Linked DNA regions of Homo sapiens: region 1 is linked to region 2. Evidence: fine-mapped expression QTL. A gene starts in region 2. The other region holds a variant in brackets. All regions are shown on one strand. Distances are between the middles of the regions.

The links. PIP is the estimated chance that this variant, and not a neighbour inherited with it, causes the effect. A credible set is the group of variants that fine-mapping cannot tell apart.
Region 1: its variant is the best candidate, but not a certain one, in a credible set for the expression of TRAT1 in whole blood (INTERVAL, PIP 0.75).

Annotation. Positions count from the first base shown.
Region 1 is chr3:108,855,715-108,861,106 of GRCh38, forward strand. No RefSeq gene overlaps it. Among named protein-coding and RNA genes, the nearest start is that of TRAT1, 36 kb to the left of the region's middle. The variant G/A (reference allele first, on the strand shown) is at 2,042.
Region 2 is chr3:108,819,854-108,825,223 of GRCh38, forward strand. TRAT1 (T cell receptor associated transmembrane adaptor 1) reads left to right here and starts at 2,933. Exons shown (of 6, transcript NM_016388.4): 1 at 2,933-3,081. The coding sequence starts at 3,075.

The sequences.
Region 1 (5,392 bases), 36 kb after region 2:
GCTTTTAAATTTTGTTAGATTAAGCCAGAGCAGCTTTTAGACTAAGTTAAATTTAGTTTATTACTGAGGAAAGATCCTCGTTAGTACTTAGTACCACCGTTCATGAATTAGGACGTTTTCCACTTTGGCTGTTGATAATCGACACTATTCCCAGCCATGTGTGAGTCATGGGCACTGTTTTCTTTATTATTTTCAGGTGGGTTTTTCCCCAAGTTCGGGTAGTTTTGTCACTTGCGTGCACTGACCAGTACTTAACTGAATACTTGACGGCGACTCTTCACATATCTCCAGAGTTTTCTCTACACGCAGCTCTCTTCTCTCCAGTATTCTGCCTTTTTGACTTCTCTTGACCTGGAGCTCCATCTCCTCAATTCAAGAGATCAATGGTCTTTTACCTAGGTTTCCTCTACCTGCTCCAAGGCCTGAAACTTTTCTCCAGGCAATAAGATAGGATGATAGGAAGGTTTACCTCATTTGTTTCCCATCTTTCAGGGACCGACCTTTGTCCTTCATTGCCTGAAACAGTATGTCAAGTAACACTGTTTCATCTACTTTGTCTGGAGTTTAGTTGTTTCAGCTGGCAGAGTATGTTCAGGTAGTAGGGTAAATCTAGGATGTTATTCTATCTTTGTCAGAAGCAGAAATCCAAGGCATTCTTACCACTTTACTGTAATTCTATAGTATATTTTTAGTGTAATTTAGTATAATTCGATAAGCTAAGCAGGATCATTTGAAATGTGAGTAAGCTATGAATTACTGATCATCATGTAATTATTAGGGACTATATATACATCACCTTTGGCAGTTTTCAGGGCTTATGTTCCAGAAGGAATACAGGATGAATATCCTGTATTTGGAAACAGAAGTGTTTCTGATTTTTAGATTTTGGAATATTTATTCATATGTAGTGAAGTATCTTAGGGATGCGACTTAAGCCTAGACAGAAAATTCATTTATGTTTATATACACATAGCTTGAGGGCTATTTATGTAATATTTGTAAATAATTTTGTGCATTCATCACATAATGTCAGGTGTGGAATTTTCCACTTGTGGAGTCATGGCACTCAAAAAGTTTTCCACTTTGGACCATTTTGGATTTTGGATTTTCAGATTATGGATCCTCAGCCTGTATCATTATAAGCCTTAACATTTCAACTGGAAAAAAAATATGTACGGAGGAAAAGAAAAAGAAAAATCATGACTAGAAAACAGATGAATTCCAAGTCTTGAGATTTTCACTGACAATGTTTTAAAGGTCCGATAAGTTGAACTCAAATCTCAAAAATAGGAGGGATAACTCATTTCCTTTTGGTATTAAATGGCTTATTTCTAGCAGAGTAAAGGGAGGGTGATTAGTTTAGACATATGCTTTAAATCTTCCTCTGAGGTTTTGTCATTTGATTAACAGAACAGACAATTTATATTAACACAGAAAAACAGAGCATTGACAGAAAGGAACAAGACAGAATATAAATTCAACAGAGGTACACTTCTAAATGCTATTTGCCATTCTTTAACCTCTTCTGAAGGGCTCTTCTGCACCCACTCACAGCTTCTACTACCTAGGAAGTCATGCATCAAGGGTGGGTACCTGAATCACGACAGTGGATTCTCCTTTTTTTCAGTTTCAATAAAACTTTTTTTACAAAATCAAGCAGGCCAGATGTAGCCTAGGGGCCATAGTTGGCTGACGCCTGGCAAGATCATTTGTTTCATTAGGAGCTTGCAAAATGATATGCTAGTCCTGTTATTCCTTCTTCATGTATTAGTTGGAATACATTATAGGAAGAAGACAGTAGATTCATCTTTGAACCAACCTAGATACAAGAGACTGGATAGTGATCAGAACAACAACAACAAAAAAAAACAATAGATAGAATTGGGGCTTTGAAAAGCAGGGTACAATTACAAGGGGAAGAAACTTAGAGTAAGATGGCAGAGACTGGAGTTCAAAGCTCCATAACTAATCAGACTAATCATATAACAATCATGACAATGATAAGTCATATTTATTGAGAACTTGCTAAGTGTAAGACACT[G/A]TGATAAGTGCTTACCTGCATACTTAATTTAATCACATAACACCCTAAAAGATAGATGCTAACCTTAAAGATGAAGAAACCAAGACTGATAAAAAGTAACTTGCCTGATGTCACACAAATAAACTGTAGACTCAGGATTTGAATATAAGTAGTCTAAGTGTAGAACTTGCTCTGTAGAATAGCTGATTTCTAGAGTTGGGTTTAAGTGCTCTTGGGCCCTATTTCTTAATTATCCCTGCATCCTATCTATTTAATAATAGTAATCTCTTTATTTTAAGTGCTGTGCTTGCATTTCTGTTATTTAAAATCAAAAGAGGCTAACTAAAACAAATTGAAAACAATTCTTAAAAATAATGACGATTTATGGCAGCTTGTACACACTAACAGCCCTTCTAATTTAGGAAAAATCCAACAATAAATCCCCTTAAATGACAGGCTGTTGCTTTCAATAAACACTAAGACTTACATCTACCACAATATTTTCATATTAAAGTGTTTTTACAGGAAAGTATTTTATTAATGCCACTTGCTTTAAAATGACTTAGCTTTTCTTTTTCAGTTTTGTGTATAAAAAAAGAGGTTTTCCCTGCAGTGACCTCATATTCACTCTCCATAAGAGACAGAACCCAAAACTAACTTACAAAAACAAAAATAAATAAATCCCGATATTGAAGCTAAAACATAATTTTGTGCCCCCTTTTGTCTAATTTTTTCTGTAGGGGATGAAAGTTATCTCATTTGGAATCAGGGAAACATTTGTTATTTAGACCAAAATGGAAGAGAATGGAAAAAGAATCTCAATCAATAGCGTTCTTGGCCACCTCTGATGTAATGGACAAGTCTTTAAAGATGTCAGTAACCATCATAACACTTGAGAATTAAGTAGGTTTATTTCTTCCATCTGCATTGATTAAGAACATACTTGGTAAATTAACTGGAAAAATTGGGTCAAGTGAGGAATAAATTTTTAAAGTACCATAAACATTTAAATTTAAAACGTATAAACATTTAGTCATTAACTTTTGATATAGGGCCAAGGCCTTACTTTGAGTAGGTCTATGATTGAAGTTTCATGTCATTTTTCTTGTATAAATATCATTGTCCATAAAACACTGTCTATGGTCCCAGTTTTGGTTTTGTTTTTAAGTGAAATGAGAACTTGAAAACATTTCTAATGAAATCTAACTGCAGCATCCCTCAAGATTTTTGGTTTTTCTTCCGAGACTTTAAGAGTTATTTCACCCTTACCTAAATTGTCAGTAATTTTTTTTTAGCAATTCGGTTTATTGATTCTTTGGAATCAGTGAACTTAACTATCATAGGAAAAGTTCCCTCCACACCCATATTTCATTAGGACACATAACAATTATCTTATGTAATTACAAGTACAGCCAAAATAATCAAGTGCAGGAACAAACACCATGCACTCCTGGGAAACACAGTTTTGGTGGTGGGAGAGACTCAGGAGGTTATAAGAATAGTCTACTGGCCATGGTGTTTATTGTGCTGGGTCAGGATTCAGTATGTTGATAGAAGGAAGGGAAAATGGCTCACATAGGTAGAGGTCAGTTAACAATGCCTCTATTTTACAAACCCAAGTTAACTTTACAGGATGAATTATTAGAACAATGGAAGAGTCTCCCACATCCTTTGCTGTTCTATTTTGTCTTTTTTTTTTTAACCACACAAGCAGTAGTGGTACCCAAAAATTCTACCATTTGAAAAATTAATTTTTAAATTAAATACTCTACTTTTTAGTCTTTCTACAAAGTATTGAGAAAGAAAAAAAACTTAAGAAAACTGGGGCAAATCAGTTTTTCTCCAATTTCCATTCTCCCATTTTTCCTAAGTACAGAATCTTTACTTTTAACTGGTGATCAAGACAGCATTAACTTCTCAAGTTAACTAAACTTCAGACAGATTTCTTCCTGTCCGTTTTCCTATTTACTTAAAAAACAAACTCATCATTGCAAATTCTTTTTTGGCTCCCTTTCAAGTGTGTATGTCTCCTCAAAAAGCTTTTACCTATTTGATTACCCCCAGAAATGTCTCTCTCAAAAACCTGAAAACCATCTCTTTGAAATGTAATTTCTGAAGGAAGATAATGCCTTTATCCTCCAGTCTGTGGGAGGGCAAAAGCCTACCTTCCGTCATGGAGATAGGTCAGAATTAAGCACAGGTGGCCTACCGTTACCCCCACCCCAGCTCTTAAAAACTCTCCAGCCTTTTGTTTCACCCTGAACTCAGAGGCTGAGTTGAGTTCAACCTCTCTCCTGTATTGCAATAGTCTTGAATAAAGTCTCTCTTGCTTGTTTAACTTTGGCTCATTTTTCACTTTAATACCAGATGCACGGCTGCTGGAACAATGTTCCCTCTGTAGCTTGTGTTGCCTTTCTTTGGCTCCTCATTACCTGTAGCTGGAATAAAGATGTGGTGGCTGAAGTCTGAATAGCAACATTTGATCACAGGATAGACTGCATGGGCTGAAGATGACAGAGAAATAGGATAAAAAGAGCTAAATTCCTAACACATGGAACAGCATCCCAGCCTTAGACCACCTATCTCCAGCCTTCTTTAATGTGAGAGATAAATTTCTGTTTTACTTAAGCCATTGTTGTTTTGAGATTTCTGTTATTCACAGGTGGACCTAATCTAACTAATATACCCCAAAATATCTTGATTTCATTTTTCACCTAACTTCTTTTAAAGAGGTAGTAAGGAGTACTAAAATGATGTCATTTGGGGTGAAGTGGGGTTGGCAGAATGAAATTCACTGGTATTACGTTGGTGCAAAAGTAACTGTGGTCTTTGCCATTAAAAGTAATGGACAGGCCAGGCGCGGTGGCTCACACCTATAATCCCAGCACTTTGGGGGACCGAGGCAGGCGGATCACGAGGTCAGGAGTTCGAGACCAGCCTGACCAACATGGTGAAACCCCGTCTCTACTAAAAATACAAAAATTAGCCAGACATGGTGGCACACGCCTGTAATCGCAGCTACTCAGGAGGCTGAGGCAGGAGAATCACTTGAACCTGGGAGGCAGAGGTTGTAGTGAGTTAAGACTGCGCCACTGCACTCCAACCTGGGTAACAGAGCAAGACTCCATCTCAAAAAAAAAAAAAAGAAAGTAATAGAAAGACCACAATTACTTTTGCACCAACCTAATACTTTTCCATGTACCGAATCTGCTCCAAACCACTCAGAACATTTGTAGAGATGAAAGAAAAGCCAGTTTCCTGTAAGATTAATATGAAAAATTCTCACATATGCATTAAATTGTTTCCTCTCCATTAAAATTTAGGATATTTTATCTGTAACTATGAGAAATTAAATTTGTATACAATTATTGC
Region 2 (5,370 bases):
TATAAGAAAATACATTATAGTGATGAAAATTAATTATAAAAATGATAGATGATCATCAAAAAAGAAGTTTGAAAAACTGGGCCTCTTTCTACACTCTGACCCATTTTTCTGAAACTCTGAATGGCAGCTGCCATTTTGACATGTTTTTCATTTTCTTTTGGCAACAAAACATCAATTTTGTTGGCCTTAATATTTTTATTTCTTGGCAGGTGCCCATCAAAACCTCCCCCCAAAATTTCCTACAACATCTCTAACTGCTTTAAGCTTGTCGAGACATTTCTGCTTAGTCTAGCTTTCTTTGAAATTCCATTTTGATAACCCATCTCATTAAAAAGTACTACAGAGGCCTCATGTTTATTTATGATTTAAACATGGCTCATGAAGCCATCATTCAAATCTCTGAATGCACTTTCTAATATATTTTATAACAAATAAATATCCATATGCTTTTTTATATTCTGATAATGTTTCCATGTGCTCAGCCATCTATATTTAATGAAAAGCTATTTTTTTTTTCCTGGCAAATTTCAAACATCTATGGAGCTAACTAATGTGCAGGCACGGACTTCCTGTGTGACCTTGGACAATCTTGTTACATCTCCGTAGATTATTTAAATCTATGGAATGGAACATTGTAATGAAGATCACTTTTCAAAAATATTGTAATAATTAGAAACTGTGAAGTGGTTCAGATTTATTAGCCTAAGTTTTTACCATTTAGAGATGTCAATCATGCATAGGAGGTACATTAACCCTTTTAAGCCATAAGGTAATCACTCAACAGGTACTTCAGGCTCTTTCTGAAGCAGGACATATCCTTCCTAATGTCTCTTCTGCTCTTGCCTTCCCCAGCTTCCTGCAGCTGTATGGGTAAAGTCATACCCTTGAGGCAGGGAAGCCCTTAGACAGCTGCTCTCCCAACAGGTGGGTTTGCTTTGGGTCTCTCTTCCTGTTGGGCTGCTCTGAGAGATACTTCTGAGCAAACCACAGAGTTCCTGCATTTTTGCCTGAGTCATTCTTGCTGAGTTGACCTTCTCTCCATTCACAGCCAATAATAATTAAACACCGTTTTTTCTGGAATTGCACTTTATGGATCAGCTGGGATGAAAGCATCTTCCTTCCTTCTTTCCCCATCCTCTGCGATAATTTTGTTCTAACAAAGGAATGCTAGCACCAAAATTTCCAGTCCTGAAACCCTTTCTCTTTCCAATGTCCTCTGTAAGCTCGAGTTGTGGGCATCTACTTTGCCCATATTCCAAGGTCTTGCTTAGGTAACCTCTGTAGTCCTTTCTTGAGCCTAGGACTTCTACTTTTCTTACCAGTTACCCTCTTTCAGGACCAAAGCTCAACTCCTCAAGGCCATAACTAGGCCCTCTCCTCTCAAACTGATTTATCAGGTGCCCGAATCTTCCTGAATGTCTGGGATTCAACTTTTCAGCAGTCTTCCTCCCTACGTTCCATCTAATTCTAAGATGAAACCTTCTGATTCTTTGTTGTCCTCTGATCCCTACATGAACCTGAGGCTGCTGTTCCCTGAAGTCTTGTTCTGTCAGCATCCAGGCCTGCTTCATAAAACCTGTCACTCTGCTAATGGTTAGCGGCTGAACAAAGAGTCCTCTGGCCAAATAAGTTTAGAAAAACTCTGATAAAAATATTATTTGGGTTTCCTTTTCGCAGGACTTACCTAAGCCTTTAATATGCATCTACGGAGGTAAAAATAAAGCTATATATTTTTTCCAAAGATATTTGTTGAAGAAACATTTGTCTTCTGCGTTTCTTAAAGGCCGAGTGTTCTATGGAACATACTTTAAAAATCCCTTTTAAAGAAGCTTAGACCAGAGAATCTCCAAGGTCTCTTTCAGTTTTACAGCCTCTGAGTCAACGATTCACCAAAAAATATTTTGGGGGGGAGTGATTGAAGTGGAAAAATGTGTTAGTGTTTAGCCAGCTTTGTCCAAAGGATAAGATGCACTGTATTTTGCTTACTAGGGAGTTATTTTCTATAATGGAAGACAAAGAAAGCACAAGACACCCATGGTTTTGTTTGTTCAATCACTGAGAGTAAGTCTCAATTATTGAGACTTACGATGTGCCGGTGTGCTTAATTCTAGTTATGAAATTTTAATAATGAATAATATAGATTCTATTCCTTATATGAGTTTCCAAAAGCATTGTCCAGAACATCTATATTAAAATATCTTATCATATACAATATATGTAATTTAAAATGCACTCAGAAAATCTGCTTGTTAAAATGCAGATTCTAGTGCTTCACCCTAAATAGTCTAATTTAGACGGGCCCAGGATTTTAAACTAGCATCTTATAGCATACTTATGTACACCAACATGTAAGAACTGCTGCTATTAAGATTCTGGGATGGTGGTTGAGAACAGGAGCTTGTTGTCAGGTGGCTCTAGATTGGACAGAGAAACTCATACTGATAAGGTGAGGATTGTCAGGAAATAAGGCAGGCATCTAGCCTCGCATTAAGATGAGGTATAGAAGGCAACTGATACATACTAAGTGCTCAAAAAATATTAACTCCCTGTCCTCCATCATGGCTCAAGAAAATACAACAGCTGAGCACACCCACGGGTTGCTTACTATTTACTCATCAGTTTAGTGTATCTTATTTTGTTTCCATGTGAATTTACTTGTGAAGAGATGACTGGATTCTCTCCAGAGATAGGAAGATCCCTCCTGGTTTAATTCCTACCTTTATTTATTTATTTTTCAATTAGACTCAGGTATTGATAAAAATTCAAATGTCAGATTACAAAGGTGTGTGGGATTTTTCTTCCCACGTTACACAATTTAAGTCGACTGTTTTCAGATCAAAACTCAAGACAACTCCTTCACCACATTTCCTGTTTGTAACTGAAACAAAGTACACACAAAAGATTTTAAGAAACAGAAGAGAAAAGAATCCGAGGCACAGATAAAGATAAGTTTTACTGTCATGCTGCTTTTAACATAACAGAGCAACATCACCTAGGAAAAAAGTTTGTAGGAGGATTTTTAATCCATATATTTGTCTTATGGCTAGATAAAGATTTCTCTGAAAAAAAGAAGCATGTCAGGTAAGTGGCATTTTAAACTTTTTGTTCCATTTGTGTGTCTAAAAATTCACTTAATTTCTAAGTCCTAACGAGAAGACCCTTAGTATTTAGAAAGTAGTTATTTTAAAAATGTTGGATAACTTTTAGTGTAATTAAAATATATTTTGAAACATGTTAATGAGTATAAGTTGACATTTTTCTTTTGAAAGAAAAATGTGGACAGCATTTTAGAACGTAAATCTAATTACAGCTGTTCAGTAAGTGTTCACTGATAATTATGCCATGTGAAGTACTTGTTATTTTTAAAGAAGCTTTTGTTGACTATGTGTATTCCTCTTTAGTTTAGTTTAGCTATTAAACAGGATAAGTGTAATTCTAATTCCTCAGAGATTAGGCACTATAGTATTTTCTAGAAAGCAATGCAATTGTCAACATTCAGAGAGACAACAATTTTGAAAAGGCCAGTGAAAATTCAATTGCTGTGAGATTAATCATGAGGGTTAGATCCATATTCACTCGCTGTTGTGAAAGGGTTGGATCCATATTGACTCACTGTTATGAATCCATGTTGATGGTTCATTCCTCCTGTATTATTTTATGTACTTTTAATTTATTAAATAAACATCTTTTTGTTGCAAAAGGAAACATGCATATTATGTAATGTGGGAGAACTGTGAAATATATATATTAAAAATTCATACGTATTTTCCATCACCTTAAAAACACAAAATATGTTTTATTTCCTTTCAAATTTTATTTATATACATTCTATATAGTTTGCTTTTCATAACTGAAATAATAATGTACATAATATATCCAGCTTTTTTCACTAACATAACCATGTCCCTTTTAATATAACTTCTGCATAATCATTTTAAATGAATGCACAAAAATGATATCTATTCAGTTATAGTTTAGTCATTTGTTTATTGCTGAACATTTATGTTGTATACAGTTTTTTTTGTTTGTTTTTTTTTGAGACAGAGTCTCTCTTTGTTGCCAGGCAGGAGTGCAGTGGCGCAATCTTGGCTCACTGCAACCTCTGCCTCCCAGGTTCAAGCGATTCTCCTGCCTCAACCTCCTGAGTATCTGGGACTACAGGCGCGTGCCACCACGCCTGGCTAATTTTTGTATTTCTAATAGAGACAGGGTTTCATTATGTTGGCCAGGATGGTCTCGATCTCTTGACCTCATGATCCGCCCGCCTTGGCCTCCCAAAGTGCTGAGATTACAGGCGTGAGCCACTGCGCCCAGCCCTGTTGTATACAGTTTTTAAAAATATTTTTACATGACAGAAAGATGAACAACTCTATAGCTTTTTCTGTAGTAAGGGTTATTTTTTCAGAAAACTTTCTAGAACTGAAATTATTAAGAGATTATGGCATTTTAAGTCTCATTATTGCCAAATTGCTTTTCCAAGAGTGATGCCAATTCCCTCTCATTCTAGCAGTGCTTCTCCTTCACAGGCTGATCTCCTTTAAAAAATCGTCACTAATCTCATAAGCACAACATGCTAACTCATTGTTCAATATGCATTACTTTGATTATAATGAGGTTGAACATTTTTGCATGGATTTTTAAACTGTTTATAGCTATCATTTGTGATAGTCTGATGACCTCTTTTGCTTAATTAGTATGCTTTGTACTTTTAATACCAATTTGTATAGGCCAGCTATGGAGTAAAGATTGCATATATTATAATTTCTGTGAATTGGCTTCCATTGTTCTGTTTGATGGATCTTAAAACCAATTGATTACATAAATCACACAGGGACCATAAGCTGGCATACAATTTTCATACCTCTCCTTATCTTTCCCAGTTCATACTTTAGCAAAGAACAAAAACAAGTGTCCCAATTTTTCTAGTGCCCTGCAAGAAATGAACATAGCATTACTAAGTATAATTCCATGAGCTGATGATGATGGGGAACTCAGAAAGCATGGGAAGACCAAAGACGGTGAATATGACATTCCTCTATTTTCAGGACTAATTAATTCTAAATTTAGAACAGATATGGTAACATTTCCTCCATCGCATTTTGTAGTTCAGACTTCCCCTTTGGGTTTAATACAGGAGCTCCTACATCAACAGTTGAGAACTTTTACAATTTCACAGAAGAGATGCAAAGACAAAGTATTTAAAAACCTCACAGGTATTAAAAGTCAAAACAAAACAAAATTTCACATGAAGGAAGAGAATCAGATGATAGTATTTTTTATATTTAGATAGGTAAAATAAAAAATAAAATAAATTTGAACACACACAAAAGAATAATTATTTCTAGTTAAGTAAAACTACGTATGAAAACA